5 linked regions of the Homo sapiens genome follow. The protein of the gene in region 2 binds, or shares a complex with, the protein of the main gene of each other region. Each region holds a gene or a part of one and is shown on either strand. Other genes may lie near its edges.

What was found.
Region 1: SF3A1 (region 2) and SF3B1 share a complex: the UniProt entries of both Homo sapiens proteins name them as parts of the 17S U2 SnRNP complex.
Region 3: SF3A1 (region 2) and SF3B2 share a complex: the UniProt entries of both Homo sapiens proteins name them as parts of the 17S U2 SnRNP complex.
Region 4: SF3A1 (region 2) and SF3B3 share a complex: the UniProt entries of both Homo sapiens proteins name them as parts of the 17S U2 SnRNP complex.
Region 5: SF3A1 (region 2) and HTATSF1 share a complex: the UniProt entries of both Homo sapiens proteins name them as parts of the 17S U2 SnRNP complex.

What each region holds. Positions count from the first base shown.
Region 1 is NC_000002.12:197,407,526-197,411,104, forward strand, and holds part of SF3B1 (splicing factor 3B subunit 1), read right to left. Parts: intron 2,483-3,579; coding exon 2,245-2,482; intron 1,057-2,244; coding exon 844-1,056; intron 595-843; coding exon 473-594; intron 1-472. UniProt on the Homo sapiens protein: Component of the 17S U2 SnRNP complex of the spliceosome, a large ribonucleoprotein complex that removes introns from transcribed pre-mRNAs.
Region 2 is NC_000022.11:30,339,822-30,343,400, forward strand, and holds part of SF3A1 (splicing factor 3A subunit 1), read right to left. Parts: intron 3,059-3,579; coding exon 2,984-3,058; intron 2,530-2,983; coding exon 2,379-2,529; intron 2,065-2,378; coding exon 1,871-2,064; intron 992-1,870; coding exon 874-991; intron 561-873; coding exon 375-560; intron 1-374. UniProt on the Homo sapiens protein: Component of the 17S U2 SnRNP complex of the spliceosome, a large ribonucleoprotein complex that removes introns from transcribed pre-mRNAs.
Region 3 is NC_000011.10:66,062,328-66,065,906, reverse strand, and holds part of SF3B2 (splicing factor 3B subunit 2), read right to left. Parts: intron 2,899-3,579; coding exon 2,791-2,898; intron 2,508-2,790; coding exon 2,365-2,507; intron 2,280-2,364; coding exon 2,178-2,279; intron 1-2,177. UniProt on the Homo sapiens protein: Component of the 17S U2 SnRNP complex of the spliceosome, a large ribonucleoprotein complex that removes introns from transcribed pre-mRNAs.
Region 4 is NC_000016.10:70,554,750-70,558,328, reverse strand, and holds part of SF3B3 (splicing factor 3B subunit 3), read right to left. Parts: intron 3,279-3,579; coding exon 3,123-3,278; intron 2,151-3,122; coding exon 1,995-2,150; intron 1,444-1,994; coding exon 1,300-1,443; intron 1-1,299. UniProt on the Homo sapiens protein: Component of the 17S U2 SnRNP complex of the spliceosome, a large ribonucleoprotein complex that removes introns from transcribed pre-mRNAs.
Region 5 is NC_000023.11:136,510,189-136,512,895, forward strand, and holds the end of HTATSF1 (17S U2 SnRNP complex component HTATSF1), read left to right. Parts: coding exon 1-31; intron 32-619; coding exon 620-1,825; 3' UTR 1,826-2,158; downstream 2,159-2,707. UniProt on the Homo sapiens protein: Component of the 17S U2 SnRNP complex of the spliceosome, a large ribonucleoprotein complex that removes introns from transcribed pre-mRNAs.

The sequences.
Region 1 (3,579 bases), on a different chromosome or scaffold from region 2:
ACCTGGGAGGCGGAGGTTGCAATGAGCCGAAATCACGCCACTGCACTTCAGCCTGGGCAACAGAGTGAGACTCCATCTTTTAAAAAAAAAAAAAAAAAAAAATTCTTTGTGTCCACTGACAATCCATAAACTTAAGTATATAAAATCTTGGTGAAGCACCAAGTAAAATAACCACAATCTCAACGAGCTTATTCCTGGGACTGCTAGAAAACTGAAGCACCAGCAGTTCTCAAAGTATAACCGATAGACCCATACACAAGTCTTTGAGATGTCTTTCAAAAAGTAATAAAAGTTTCATGTTGTTCATTTCTTTTCATCTCTATATGGAACTGAAATATACCTGGAAATAGCTAAGAGAATGGAATGACAATAGTAAATTTGGGCAAAGCCAATGCAAGCTTAATCAATTTTTTTCACTATTTAAAATAAATGTATATCCTAAATACCACCTCATTCAAATTTGATGTACTACCTTATATCCTTCTGGGAACATAGCATCTAATTCCTCATCAGAAAGTGGGCGATTTCTCTCATCAATTTCTCTTTCCCACCGCCAAGCCTGAAGCTGTTCAGGAGTCATACTCATTATGTGACCTACCAAGAAAAGCAAATTTTTATATAATCTATAGTACAAGACTGTATTATTACATACATTGAGATAAAAGACAGTTAAGATCAATCCTATTATTTGCTTTTATATTATAAACGCAAACCAAGACTTAAATTTGTATATCTCCTTATTCTTACTAGAAGTTGACATTAATAGTACACAGAATACCACAAAGGAAAAAATTAAATAATTTATGGAGAAAAAAACAATTATGTCCAATGAGACAGTTCTACCTGGAGTAGGGGTAGCCATGTTCATGGCTGGTGTGCCAATTGGTGTCTTTCCAGGGGTCAGAACTGGAGTGCTTCCACCCATCTGACTAGCTGGTGTTTCATCCCACCGTGATTTTCTTTTACTGGCTCCAGGAGTCGGTGTTTCACCAATAGAATCTCCACCTCGATCTGTTCGAGGAGTCTCAGCCCATCCACTTCCATGCCCAGGAGTATCTTTAAAAAGAAAGAGTGAGTAAAACCACAATTTTAATCACTGTTAAAATAATATTCTTTATTCTCAAACAGTTATACTCAAAACTATCAAGTTCTAAAATAGAATATTCCTAAAATGGTGACCCATTTAAAGTTGTTTGAGACCAGCCTGATCAACATGATGAAACTCTGTCTCTACTAAAAATACAAAAAGTAGCCAGGTGTGGTGGTGGGCGCTTGTAATCCCAGCTACTCAGGAGGCTGAAGCAAAAGAATCACTTGAACTGGGGAGGCAGAGGTTGCAGTCAGCCGAGAGCGCACCACTGCACTCTAGCTTGGGTGACAGAGCAAGACTCCATCTCAACAACAACAACAAAAAAAGTAAATTTGATGTTATGTACATTTTTCCATAATAAAAAACAAAGGGTAAGTCAGGCACAGTGGTTCATGCCTGTAATTCCAACACTTTGGCAGATCACTTGAAACCAGGAGTTCAACACCAGGCTGGGCAATGAAGCAAGACATTGTCTCTACAAAAAATTTAAAAATTAGCCAGGGGCCGGAAGCGGTGGCTCATGCCTGTAATCCCAGCATTTCAGAAGGCCGAGGGGGGCAGATCATCTGAGGTCGGGAGTTCGAGACCCGCCTGACCAGCATAGAGAAACCCCGTCTCTACTAAAAATACAAAATTAGCCGGGCTTGGTGGCGCATGCCTGTAATCCCAGCTACTCAGGAAGGCTGAGGCAGGAGAATCGCCTGAATCCGGGAGGTGGAGGTTGCAGTGAGCTGAGATCGCGCCATTGCATTCCAGTCTGGACAACAAGAGCAAAACTCCATCTCAAAAAAAAAAAATTAGCCAGGCATGGTGGCATGCCCCTATAGTCTCAGCTACTAAGAAGGCTGAGGTGGGAAGATCACTTGAGCCTAGGATGTCAAGGCTACAGTGAGCAAGACCCTATCTCTAAAGAAACACACAAAATCAAAGGTTACAGCCTACTAACTTTACTTTTACCTAAGGTTCTTCCTTAAATCTTAAACCACTTCAAGAAGTGGAAAAAATTAGGCATATGAACTGTTCTATTCTTAATCTGTCCCCCAAAAGCAGCTGGTTATTTATACGTGTCCACCCAGGAATAAACAGAACACATTTCAGTCTGTAAACATATCACTCAACATTTCACCCACACACCCATACTCCACTAGAAGTACCTCTCTCTGTTTTGGGGGTTTCATCCCATCTGTTTTTACGAGCACTGGAAGTTGCGCCTCCATGGCCTGGTGTCGCATGGCCTGGTGTATCACCTCGTCCAGGAGTAGCAGCTCCCGCTGGTGTGTGGCTAGGTGTAGGATCCCATATTTTTGAGCCTGGGGTTGCTCCAGGAGTCTCGCTTCCCTTTGCACGACCTGGTGTCTCATCCCATCTTAAGGAAGGAGTATGCCCAGGGGTCTTAAAAAAGCAAAAAAATTTTATTTCACACACCCACACAGAAATAATTAGAAAATTTCCATAAAATAAAAAACTTTAAACGAAAAATGTTTTAGTTCTATGCACTATAATTAATGAAAAGTTAGAAGACACTACCTCTACTTATAGGAAAAGATACCTACTTTCTAGCAAATGTTTATGATTAAAAACAATGTAAAGTTTCAATCCGAAGCACTGACAAAAGTCCCAGCTTAAAAAAACAAAATATTATCGATATGAATCTTTGATATGCCATTAATAGCTCTGTGACTGGGGGAAATCACTGAGGTTTCTCTATCTAGATCAGTAATCGAAGGCTTTCAGCTCTAATTACATTAGTACTTCTCAAAGTGGGGCTTAGAGACACATATTTAGGGGAGAAGGAATTCGTGTGTTCTAAGAAAATAGTCCTGTTGATGTTTTGTTTAATTGTGTGTGTTTAATTAATATAAACATGCTTTAGATCACCTATGTAATTTTTTTTTTTTTTTTTTTTTTGAGACAGAGTCTCGCTCTGTCACCCAGGCTGGAGTGCCGGGGCATGATCTTGGCTCACAGCAACCTCTGCCTCCCGGGTTCAAGTGATTCTCCAGCCTCAGCCTCCTGAGTAGCTGGGGTTACAGGTGCCTGCCACCACGCCGGGCTAATTTTTGTATTTTTAGTAGAAACAGGGTTTCTCCACGTTGGTCAGGCTGGTCTCGAACTCCTGACCTCGTGATCCACCCACCTTGGCCTCCCAAAGTGCTGGGATTACAGGCGTGAGCCACCGCACCAGGCCCCACCTATGTAATTATAACCAGATACCGTCACATGATTTCAATCTTGAGATCAGTTTGTATGTACAGTTACATGTGTACCAAATAATATTACCCTAGCTGATGCTGGCAAGATTAATGAAAAAAGATGAGAGGTGGATTTTCATTTGTTTTTTGACACAGGGTCTCACTCTGTCGCCCAGGTTGAGTGCAGTGGCACAATCACGGCTCACTGCAGTCTCCACCTACCAAGCTCAAGTGATCCTCCCATGTCAGCCTCCTGAGTAGCTGAGACTACATACAGGCGCACACCACCACACCCAG
Region 2 (3,579 bases):
ATGGTGTAAGTGGCAGAGTCAAAACTAGAAGCCCAGTCTCCCACCTGTGGCACAGTTCCTGCCCCATTCCAAAGAGCTCATGGTACTCCAGCCATCAATGCTCTCCTTCTAAACAGCCACAGGAAGCCCTTCCAGCTAAAGCCAGAGCTTGCTCTGGGATGTCAACAGGCACATGGCATCTCCTTCAGTGTCTGCCTTTGGGGAATTTCTATGGGGAGTTCTTCTGGAAAGTGGGGAGTTCTCTTGCAATATCATAGAGTGCAACTCTCCTCAAAAGCTTTTGTTGACCTCAATTGTTGCTTTCTATGTTTGCTTAGAAGAAGATGGCTGTAATTCGGAGACTACCATGGGCTCTCCTGGAACCCCCACCTCACCTGGTGCGTACACCTCATCATCGCTCTGCTTCTCACGGATGGAGCGATCCCGCTGCTCCAGCCAGCGAGGGTCAAGAAGTCCAATGCGCATGTGTTCCTGCATTTTGCTGGCGGGGATCTTCTCCCCAGTAATGGGGGACACAAGATACTCATCTGGAGCAGGGGCTGGAGGCAAGGGCTTGGAGGCTAAAAGGAAACAGATGTTTCAGTAAGAACACTGGTGGGCAGCCACCTGAGTTAAGAGGGTGGTATTTCATGCGTGCATCATTCATCAAGGCATCTATTCAGTGCCACTCTTGTACCTGGCACTGTGAAAGGCACTAGGGCACCAGAGATGACTGGGCCCTGTTCCCACCATGAAACCTGTAACAGACGGGCTTGCAATGCTTTTACAATAAGCTGCACCTCAAGCCCTCCTAGAAAGACGGGTGTGAGGAACACATGAGGGCACACAGGACTTCCTGGGCAGCCCGAGGGTTGGGAAGCAGGCCCTCCCTACCTTTGGGATCATAATCCTTGCGGACAATGACTTGGTCTGGAGTTGGGGGCAGAGGTGGAGGCATGGGTGTCTCTGGGGGTGGGGGCACTTTCTGCCCTTCTTCTTCATCATCTGAACCCTGAAAAGCAAAGCAATGGCAGGACTCAGAGAGGGGCTGAGGCCACCTCCCTGTAGCTGAGCCTGGCAGGTCTCTGGGTGGCAAGGAGCCTTGGCCTCTGCCAGCCAGCGTCCATGTGCTAAGCCTCCCAGGGCAGCTGAGGCCAGCCGGCAGCAGGCCAAGCTGCTTCCTCACAGCATGAATGGGAGTGCTGAGGCCACGGTCCTAGCACTCCTCCCAGGCATTTCCAGCAGCTGGCACCAGGCAGTCCCAAGAGGCCAAGGGCACTTAACATGCCGGGGGGGGACAGTGCCAAGGGGGCGAGGGGTGGGGGCGGCGAGTCGCCAATCAATGGTAGCTGCTCACACAGCAATGCTGGGAGGGAGAGAAAAAGTCATTTCCCACAGACAGGGGCCCTTTCTTCTCAGGCTGTGCACAAATTATTTCCGAGTGGGGGAGAACAGTCTGGTTCTGGAGACTCCATGCCTGCTTAGAGGGCCTGGCTTGAAGGGGGTAGGGATGCCTGAAAGGAAGCGTGGGCTACATTTAGAAAAGCTCTGGGAGCTTGGAGCCCAGCTGAGAGCTCAAAACAGAACAGGGTAATGCAGTGAGTTCCCTGAGGGCTGGCACGAGGCAGTGAGAGCAGGCTGTCCGGGCCAGGGAGGCGGCCACAGAACAGGTCAGCACAGCTTTTAGATCCTTGCCTATGAATGAATCTTTGTTGCCGGAGCTGGAAAGAGGCTCTGTGCTGCCTGGACTTGGGCAGCTGTATGGCCTTGTTCAGGACCCACGCCTCCTTTCAAGGCTCACAGGGGAGCTGGATCTGACTGGTGGAGAGCACTTCGACCTCCTGGGGCTTCAGGGGAAAAGGTCATCCTGCAGGCCTGCCCAGCAGCTTACCTCATCCATATCTTGTACTTGGGTGTCCTGGTCCAGCTGGGAAGGAGGCTCCTCCGCCTTCTCCTGTTTGTCATCCTCCTCATCAGACTCGACCTCCATCTCAACTTCCTCACTCTCCCCAAACTTTTCATAGCGCTCCTGAATGAGGATTCGGGCCCCCAGCTCCTCTGGCGTGGTGGGGGGAGGGAAGTTCCCTAGAGGGTGAGCCAGAGGCAAAGGTATTCCTTATCAAAGACCCACCTATTTGCCCTGTCTGAGCTCCCCAAGGGCTGGGGCCATGTCTGTTTTCTCTCCAGCTATCTCCAGAGGCCCATCTAGGGTCTGGCAAGTACGTATTGAATCTAAGTTGGGCAAAGTGGTAGAACTGAAGTCTTTTGGGAGCAGGGAGGAGACAGCACTGATAAAGCCCTCTGAGAGATTCTACTGCTCTCTGGGAACACCTGCACCAGGTTTCCCGGGAAGTCTGAGTTCCTGGCTCCCCATCTGGAGTCACTCCTCACAGACCTACCTTGCTCATTGGGTTGGAAGTCCACTGTTTCCACCACCACAAAATCATGCCAGTCGATCTGAGCATAGGCCACCCGCTCCTTCTCCTTCTCCTCTTCTTCCTTCTTCCTCTCACGTTCCTGGAATTTGGCCCATTCCACTCGGTAACACACCTGCAGAGATGGGAAACAGCTTGGTGCTACGCTGAAGCAGGGTCTGCTCCTGATGAGGCTACCACCTCCAGGGCTTTCATCAAAGTCAGCGCCTCCTTCGGAACAGAATGGAAGTATGGTTCCAAACTATGGCATTTGCACCTGGTTCCACCCAGGTGCAGAGTTGGGACAGAATGAAAATTCCACCCTCTGATCTGCTTGGGAGCTGGCCTTCTGTCTTCTAGCTAGAGTGGAAAAGAGGGAGATATATTGAGGCTGAGAGCAAAGCAGAAAGTTGTGGTATGTTGGGAAGCATCCGGACTCCAGGTTTCTTTGGCCTTTGTAGCCAACAAAGCCTTTTCTCCCACCATTCCCATGACTGGAACATAACAAGGTCCTGCCTCAGAGACTGTTTTCAGACATAAAACAGAACCAACCACCAGTAACTGGTTGCAAGAAATGCTATTCAGTTTACCTGATCCAAAACTTCTCGGGGGTTTTCAGCCTCTTTCTTGAGCTTTGAAAATAAACCTTTGGGTGGAATCAAGATCTGAAATACAGAAGAGTTAAAGCAACTGTCAGTGCTTTACAACGCAGTACAAAGAGGCAGCCTTCCTGGGCCTGTGATAAAGCACAGGAGATGAGGAAGCATGGGATTCTGTGTCCCAATCCCAGCTCCACTTGGCTGTGGGACTTAGGGCAAGTTACTTAACCTCAGTAACTTGATTTCCTTCTCCAAAATAATGGCACCACCACTCAAAGTTGGCACCATGAACTTAAAAAGGTGGCTTCGAGGATTAGCAGGAAAGCATGCAAAGCACTAGCCGATTACCCAGAACACGGTCAGTATGAGACGGCTGCTTTCATGACACTGACCTGCTCTCATCCTTTCAAAAACACTACGCAGGTCCCCCCTGACTATCCTATTCAGAACCGCAGCGTACTTGCCCCACCTCCCTCTATTTCTGCTCCCTGCTTTCTCTCTGTAGTATTTAGCACCATGTAACAGACACTGACAATGCACTTGACTCCTCCTCACTAGACTAGAAACTCCATGAAGACAGGGATTTC
Region 3 (3,579 bases), on a different chromosome or scaffold from region 2:
GGCAAGACTCCGTCATAAAATAAAATAAAATAACATAAAAATAAAATATTGTTATAACTGCATTCCACATGTTCAAAAAGTTAAGAGAGAAAGAATAGATTTAAAAGACCCGAAATCAAACTTCTAGAAAGGAGAATTATATTGTATGGGATTACTGTTAGATCAGAAATTACAGAAGAAAATAATAGTAAACTTGAACATATAGCAATAGAAATTTTCTAAAGTGAAATACAAAGAGAGAAGAATTTCTTTAAAAATGAAGAGCATCAGTGAGCTCTTCATTTATTTTTTCATTTATTATTTCATTAATAGAGGAATAATTTGAGTTCCCAAAGGAAAGAGAAGGGAACAGAGAAAATATCTGCAGAAATCATGACAAAATTTTCCCCAAATTAATAAAAACTAAAAACCCAGATCTAAGATGCTTAAAAAACCCCAAGCAAAGAAACATTCAGAAACTACACCAAGGCACATTGTAGTCAAATTGTTAGAACTAGTGATAAAATCTTAAAAACAGCCAAATAAAAATGACACATTATGTACACAGGAACAAAGGTAAGAATGACAGCAGTTTTCTCACTAGAAACAATGCAAGAAAGAAGACACTGGAGCAACATCTTAAAAGTACTGAAAGAAGGCTGATGCGGTCACTCACACATGTAATCCCAACAAGCTGGGAGGCCAAGGCAGGCGGATCACTTGAAGCCAGGAGCTCGAGACCAGCCTGGCCAACATGGCAAAACCCCATCCCTACTAAAAATATAAAAATTAGCTGGGTGTGATGGTATGCACATGTAATCTCAGCTACTCGGGAGGCTGAAACAGGAGAATCGCTTGAACCCAGGAGGTGGAGGTTATAGTGAGCCAAGATCACACCACTACACTCCAGCCTGGGCGACATAGCAAGATTCCATCTCAAAGAAGAAAAAAAAAAGTGTTGAAAGAAAAAAGATTGTCAACCTAGAATCCTAAACCTGGCAAAGATCTTTCAAAAATGAAGGCCAAATAAAGAATTTTTAAGACTACTCAAGCAGAACAAATTCAAAACCAGCAGACCCACAATACAAGAAATGTTTTTTTAATATTTTGTAGAAATGGGGTCTCACTATGTTGCCCAGGCTGGTCTCAAATTCCTGGAATCTAGCAATCCTACCACCTCAGCCTTCTCCCAAAGTACTGAGAGTACTGAGATTACAGGCTTAAGCCACCACGCCCCCTAACTTAAGAAATGTTAAAGGAAGCCCTTCAGGCAGAGGAAAAATGATATCAGATAGAAACCTGGATATACACAAAGAAATGAAAGAAACAAAAATGGTAACTACATGGCTTCATGCATGATTCTTATTTAAACCTCCCTAAAAGATAACTGACCATTTAAACAAAAATAATAACTATATAGTATAGGATTTATAACATATGTAAAAGTGAATATATGACAATATAGTGCAAAAATTGGGAGGAGAGAAATGAAGTATACTATAATGGCTCTTAATACTATCTGGAAGCAGTGTAACATCAAGAGAAGGTAGATCCTGATAAAGACATGATCTATAAACCCCAGAGCAACAACTAAAATAACAAAGCAAAAACTTAACAGCTAATTAACCAACACTGGAGATAAAATGAAATCATAAAAATTGTTCAAGTAATCCAAAAGAAGGTAGAAAAACAGGAAAAAGGGAACAAAGAGCAGAATGGATAAAGAGAGGGTCATTTCATGATAAAGGGGTCAATTCATGAAGACCTAACAACACTACACATTCAACTACCTAAAAATGGAGCTTCAAAATACTAGCCCATCCCTGTCTCAGTGCCTTTGCACTTGCTTGCATTTACTGTTACTTCTGACCCAGATGATCCTGTGGCTGGCGCTTTTTCATTCGGGTCTTAGTTCAAGCACCACCTCCCCAGTGAGGCCTTCCCAAAGGCCTCCCTGCCACCCCATCCCATTACCCAGTTTCCTCTGCTTCAACATCCTTATCTACATCTGAAAGTATCTTGTTCTCTGATTACCAGTTTACCTCAACTGCTGACTCCTCACTGCCTACAGTAGTGCCTGGCAGAGAGTTGGTTCAATAATTGTTTAAAAAAGGATGAGGGAGAAAGGAACAACAGTCAGCCAGCCAGCCAAAGGGAAGTGAAGGTCCTCCCCTCTCAGCCCTGTCTGGTACCCTTACCCGTCCATCGCCTCCTCAATCTTCTTCTTCCTCAGCTCAATGAGTTCAGGGGTCTCCATTCCAGCAGGCACTGATGAAAAGCCTCCAGGAGTGATAAGGCCACTGTAAAGAGAGGAACAAGCTCTGGAGTAAAGAGAAGGACCCCAAAGATAGCCCACTTCCAAGAGGCATTCTCTGCTTCCCCCACCTGTCTGCAGGGGTAATAAAGCCTGTCTCATCTGGTTTGTCTTCATCACTTTCTTCCTCTTCCTCTTCTTCTGAGGATTCTTCATCAGATGGTTCCAGTTCCCCCCAAGGGGTCCGATCAATCTCTTCTTCCTCAGTCTTGGTCTGAAAGAGATCACTTTATCATTCAACAAATGTTTTCTAAGTACCTATTATGTGCCAGGCTGTTTTAAGCTGAAGGGGTGTAAGAGTCAAAACACAATAATCCCTACCTACCTAGAGCTCAAATTCTAGTGAGGAGCTTACATTAACATCTCAGGAAAATGTATGCCCTTTTCCAGGCTCTGCTGTGTCAGAACACACAACTCCCTGATAATGAAGCTATAAACCAACAATCTAACCTTCATGACATTAAGTAAAACCAAGATCGCTAGTACATGGCCCATACCTGAAATTCAGCAGCATTGGTTCCAAACACGTCCCCATAGAGCGGTTTCCCAGTCTCATCCACTGGAGGTTTGCCCCAGCCACCAGCATGGTACCCAAAGGAACAGCTCTGCAAGACAGTGAGCACAATCAGTTCACTCCTTAGCTGCAAAAGAAATTCTGAAGCCCTAGAGAAAAGGCACACTCAAAAGTACAGAGCTGATACTTGGGAACTCCGGAAATTATGACTGCAGAATTAAATCAAATGTTATGAAGCATTAGAAACCAAAATTAATAAACAACTAAAATCTGGAGGCAACAGGATAAGGAGACAGGAGGCAGAAAGTATGCTAATAACTTCTGTCATGGCAGAGTCTTTACTGTCTGAAACCAAAATACGTACATTGAAAACATGACTTCAATTTCTTATTGAGTTTTCCTAACTTTGGAAAGCTAGCTTGTTCAGAATCTATTTATCTTAAGGGGCAGAAATTTCTATCTAAAATTTAACAATACTACTGTTTTACTTTAATGACTCATCAATTTTTTTAATGCTTATTTTAAAATAAGAAATTTGAAGACATTCTTGAGATAAAATTATTTCTGAGAGACTGAAGTGAAGCTAAAAAAAAATTATTTCTTTTTTCTTTTTTTTTTTTTTTAAAGTAGAGGTGCGGTTTCACTATGTTGCCCAGGCTAGTCTTAAACCCCTGGCCCCAAGGGATCCTCCCACCTCAGCCTCCCAAAGTGCTGGGATTACAGGTGTTGAGACACCACATCTGGCTGAGATAAAATTATTTCTCTCTGGTCA
Region 4 (3,579 bases), on a different chromosome or scaffold from region 2:
GTCTGAGCAACACAGCGAGACCCTATCTCTATTTTTTTTTAAAGAAAAAAAAAAAACATTAAAATTACTTTTTTCCTGTTCGTGGCTACTAGAAAATTTAAATTACACCTGTAGTTCACCTTACATTTCTAATGGATGGCATGGTCTAATTCTACCCACCAGCTTGATACAGAGGATACAGGAACTTGAACACATAAGGAATGACTTTATTAAGTCCAGAAGGTGGGAAATTCTACAAGACAAATGATCTGATCTTGTAATACTTCAAAATGGGGTAGAACAGTTTAAGAGACATAAAAAGAAAGATGAAGGAAATGGAAAAAGCGTAGACTGCTATGCTGAGGTCCTGAGCACAACCAACTATAAAGCCACATTGGGGGAAAGAAGAACAGGGAAAACTGGAACATGGTAATAAGGAACTATTGTTATATTTTGCTGAGCATGATAATACTAGTATCTTACAAAAACAGACATCTGTTGGAACTACATTATCAAGTATTTATAGATGAAATGATAGATCTTGGATTTGCTTTAAAATAGTCCAGGGAAAAGATAAAATAAGAACAGCAGAATGTTGCTGATAGCTGTTAAAACTAAAAAAGAAAAAAATAGACCGAAAACCCATGTGGCAGCCCATAAAAATCCAACAAAAGAAAAAAAACTAAAAAAATAACAACAACCCTCTCCCAAAAAAACTGGGTACATGGAAGTTCACTGTATTAGTCTCTCTAACTTCTGGCTATGTTTGAGATTTCTAAATTAGGAAGTAAAATTAAAAAGCAAAAAGTACCTGGGCTAGATTACTTAGATGTCTGAGTCAATAATCATTAAGGAAAATGAAAAGCATATGATCAAGAATCCTGACACTATCTTAGCGTTAAAGCACACCTTTTCTTCACGGCACAAAGAGCTCAGCAACTTTGACAACAGGGAACATTTAGGGGTCCTTTATTGCTAATGAAGCCAATTATGAACTGAGAGGTATTCATTGCTGCTTTTGAAACTAGTGAATAGTGGGAACTACAGTTGATCCTTCAGGAACCCATCCAGTTCTGACTTAGAGTAGCTATCAAACAGCATTTATCAGATGTGAAGACTCTTTATCAAAATATTTCTTTCTCAGCCTGATTTGTTCGAATTAAAGAGCTGAGAAAAGTGGAACCCAGAGTGACACTGTTCACTTTTCATAAGGTGAGGATCTGAAACCATGGGCAGAGAAAATCCCTGTTATCAAACAAAGGAGTGTGTGAAACGTACAGAAGGCCTAATGTCCACAATGTGGGCCTCTGGATCTCTTACCTGTAGCCCAATATTCAGGTATAGGAAGCCAATCGAGCCCCTCTCACCCAGCTCATCCTGCTTCTCAGTCCCACCCATTTCCACGATACACAAGGACTCAGGCTGGGCTGGGAGAGCCTGCATGCTTAGAGGTTGCAAACAGTCCTGAGAGGGAGAGAAAAATCATAAAAACACAGAAAATGACAATTTTAGGAAAAAAACATACCCAGAGAAATCTAATTCTAGGATTGAAAAAGTACTTCCTTATGCACAGAAAAAACCCGGGGAGTGAGTTCTAAGAGAGTACTGAGTTATTAGTTACACCCAATTTCAGAATAAGCTTCGGGAAGATCATGCTTTCCTCCTTTTGTCAAAGAAGATAATGGCAAAGGTAATTAAGCAAAGCACACCTCCTGAAAAGTCACCTAGGGTCCTGCAGCAAGTCAAATTTATGCAGTCTTGGTTGTTAACTTAAAAAAAGGAGTTGAGGCTTAAGCCAAAGAAACATTTCTGTAGTCTCAGATCATATCCTTAAACCACAGCAGGAAACTCCTGAAACACACTGCAATGACAAGAGAAGCAGCAGGTATGGATTCTGGGTTCTAACCCAGCTGATCTCAGAGATAGACATCAGGAGTGGATCTCAGAGATAGACATCAGGAGCCAGATGCTCAGGTTCCAACCAGATGATCCTTGAAGCTCAGAGTGTCACTCACTGAGGGATCCAGGGAGATGATTCTGACAGTGTTGTCCACAAGCCCCACAGCCAGGAAGCGAGACCGCTGCTCTCCAGGGGGTACATTGGCCAGACTCATGCACACCACATCTGCTGACATCTCCTTCCGTTCTGTGTACTCATTCAGCTGTCCTGACTACAGGAGGAAAGACACAGCAAGGTCAAAACTACAGAGGGATGGGTCTAGATGCTCCAATTCACCCCAAAACCCTGGATCCAGAGAATGAAGGAGGGCTGTTGTATTTTGTTCTGCTTCCTCTCACTCCTCTTACTATAGTAAATGACAAGAATTTATCTACCTGAGTTCTCAAGACTGAAGTTAACAGGCTCACAGCAAGCAAAATGAGTATCTTCCATCAATAAGAGAATGAACAGACCTTTGACAAGGTCAATGTGCCACAAATTTTCTGAGCCAACTTTGTTCTCAGGAAATGGAGACATATAAAACTGTCTGTGTTTTACAAGAATATTCTGGGTGAAGGGAATTCAAATATGGTTAAAGACAGAGAAATCTCAACCAAAGGTACAGGCAGGCTACAAATTTGGCCACACTAGAGACCTCCTGAGAGCAAGAGAATTAAGTGTACTGAACATCCTTCCATATAGAAGTTTTCTGAAATGGATTCAGACTGCAGAAATTAAATCTATGCCAAATATTTGTTGGAAAAGTAGAGAGTGAAATGCAGGAGGAGCAAGTGTTTCACTGCTAAGAGGGGATTTCATAACTCTACCTAGAATTAGACATCAAATTACCCCTTTTCCCCATCTCTGTAAGGGACCAAACTGGTTTGTGAACACTGTCACTCCAGCTCGCTTTTTTTTTTTTTTTTTTTTTTTGAGACGGAGTCTTGCTCTGTCGCCAGGCTGGAGTGCAGTGGTGCAATCTCAGCTCACCGCAACCTCTGCCTCCCGGGTTCAAGCAATTCTCCTGCCTCAGCCTCCTGAGTAGCTAGGACTACAAGGTGCATGCCAACACGCCCAGCTAATTTTTGTATTTTTAGTAGAGACAGGATTTCACCATACTATCATCTAAATGACTAGACTACAATGCCCATCTTTCCCTCTGGTCCCTACAATAAGTCCCACAGTGAATGATAAAATAACATACAGGATCCATCTCGAAATAGACCAGCTCTCCTCCTGTCAGGGCAATCACCACTTGTCGCTGGTTCACTGCACACTTCACAATTGTTTTCTTTCCAGGGGTCTTCCACTCATTGACTCTCTTGTCTGCTCGTATGTGCCGAATGCCATCTGGATAGACCTAGAGTCAGTAACAGAAAGAAACCTGACTTTAACAATTTGATTCATCACTCAGAATGACCCTCACATCTATCAGATCTGTCACTAAAATCAGACCTGGGGCCACTGCATTTGAGGCACCAGTTGAATCAAAGACAAAAGAGTTAGTAGGCCTCAGGCAAGGTCAACTTTTAAATAGTTCATGTTTTGCAGTGTCCACTTCAAAGAAGTTCAAAGCTTATTAACAAAACACTTATAAAGATCTTTATTAGAGATGAAAGCTGCAGTGATGTGGCTCTGTAACAGAAAAATGGCAAATACAG
Region 5 (2,707 bases), on a different chromosome or scaffold from region 2:
CCAGGCATGGGATGGGACTACAGATTATCAGGTAAATTTTGCTGCTTGTCAAGGGCACACACATTGTTTCATTACCAACAAATACTGATCCTTCAGATCTAAATTTTGGGTTTGGTTTAACCTATTTAATGTAACAATGCTTCTTTTATTTTTATTTACTTATATATTTTAATTTTTTACTCTTCCTCTTAATTATTTACAGTGCTGCTTTTAAATAATATTTTGCATTCAGAAGATAGAGAAATGTTTGAGTCTTTCAGTTTCTAAGTCTGAAAGTTTGAGGCTTGTTCAGAATAGTGATAAGAAAAGAACACATTCAACCAAATGTTACTCTTCCTTTGTATGCTGTAAAGTATAGACAGAGCTCAAATATTAACTTTTTAAGAGATGAGACATTTCTGCAGTACTGTGATATTTGGCCTTTATTTAAGTGGTCTTATTTAAGGTCAACTCTAGTAAATCAAGATGTAAAGTTTTGAAAACTGAAGATGGAATTGCTTTCATTTCCTAATAAGAGATGCTTTATAAAATTAAGGTTGTTTCATCAATATTAGATATGTTCAGAGAAGTAACCTTTTGCCTGAAACTTATTTTAATGGCAGTCTCCATTTATCCACAGGTGGAGGAAACCTCAAGAGAAAGGGAGGAAAGGCTGAGAGGATGGGAGGCTTTCCTCAATGCTCCTGAGGCCAACAGAGGCCTTAGGCGTTCAGATTCTGTCTCTGCTTCCGAAAGGGCAGGGCCTTCTAGAGCAAGGCATTTTTCAGAGCACCCCAGCACATCTAAAATGAATGCTCAAGAAACTGCAACTGGAATGGCGTTTGAAGAACCTATAGATGAGAAGAAGTTTGAAAAGACAGAAGATGGGGGAGAATTTGAAGAAGGTGCTTCTGAAAACAATGCTAAGGAAAGTAGCCCCGAAAAAGAGGCTGAAGAAGGCTGCCCTGAAAAAGAATCTGAAGAGGGCTGCCCCAAAAGAGGGTTTGAAGGCAGCTGCTCCCAAAAAGAGTCTGAAGAAGGCAATCCCGTAAGAGGATCTGAAGAGGATAGTCCTAAAAAAGAGTCTAAAAAGAAGACACTCAAAAATGATTGTGAAGAGAATGGCCTTGCAAAGGAATCTGAAGATGACCTCAACAAGGAGTCTGAAGAGGAGGTTGGCCCCACAAAAGAGTCCGAAGAAGATGACTCAGAGAAAGAGTCTGATGAAGACTGCTCTGAAAAACAGTCTGAAGATGGCTCCGAAAGAGAATTTGAAGAAAATGGTCTCGAGAAAGATTTGGACGAGGAAGGTTCTGAAAAGGAGCTTCATGAAAATGTTCTTGACAAAGAGTTAGAAGAAAATGACTCTGAAAACTCCGAATTTGAAGATGACGGCTCTGAAAAAGTGTTAGATGAGGAAGGCTCTGAGAGAGAGTTTGACGAAGATTCAGATGAAAAGGAAGAAGAGGAGGATACATATGAAAAAGTATTTGATGATGAGTCTGATGAGAAAGAGGATGAAGAATATGCAGATGAAAAGGGGCTTGAAGCTGCTGATAAAAAGGCGGAAGAAGGTGATGCAGATGAAAAGCTGTTTGAAGAGTCAGATGACAAGGAAGATGAAGATGCAGATGGAAAGGAAGTTGAAGATGCTGACGAAAAGTTGTTCGAAGATGATGATTCCAATGAGAAGTTGTTTGATGAGGAGGAAGATTCCAGTGAGAAGTTGTTTGACGATTCTGATGAGAGGGGGACTTTGGGTGGTTTTGGGAGTGTTGAAGAAGGGCCCCTATCCACTGGCAGCAGCTTTATTCTCAGTAGCGATGATGATGACGATGATATTTAATCCCTTAAACTTGCTTTTTAGGGAGAGTCCTCCATCTACATTTGCCTGTGCTTCAGGGTAATTACTAGTAGTGTTACATGAACATGTGCATAGTGGTAGGATGCCATCAGATTAAAGCATTGAAGTGTTTCATTGTTACCTGTACCTAATGGTTTTAAATATATGTTAATTGATTGTTTAGTTAAAATGTCATAGTTACAATGCAAGTAAACTGGATACTTGTTCTTTTGTCAGATTTGTTAAATGCATGCAGAATAATATTTTTAAGAGTATTGATTGAAGTTTGTGATATTCATCAATAAAAATGAGTTGATAATATGCAGAAACTGAAAATTGGACTTGAGTTAAATTGCATTTTAAATTCTTGATATTGCTTTATTTATACTGAAGGTTGGCTTTTCTGAGGACTTGAAGAATCTCTTTGGAGTCTCCTTGCTTCCCGCTGGTATTAGCACGTATGTCTCCATTTCCTCTCTATAAACCAGAACATGTTCCTAAACTCAGAAAACAACCCTCTGGATTTTTTTTTTCTGCCCAGTCCTTGCAAATTAACTCTTGTTTGTTTTCTACCCTCTTTCCATTAAAATTGACTCTCAGATGTGCAAAAGTGAACTTCCTGCAGTCTACAGCTCCCATTATTATTAAAAATCTAAAGAAACAGATTAGAATTCTACCTTGTACTGTTAGCGTCTCTGGGCCCCTTTAGAAGTTAATTCAAATTAGAGGACCTCTTCCCAGAAAAAAATGTACACACTACACTACACAACTTGTGTACTGTTTGGGGAGGTTCATGGATTCCCTGAAGTTGAAGAACTTCATGCATGCTTCAGTTGTTCGTTTTTTTAGAATCATAGTGCCTAGCACTGTGCAAAGTTGTGTAGT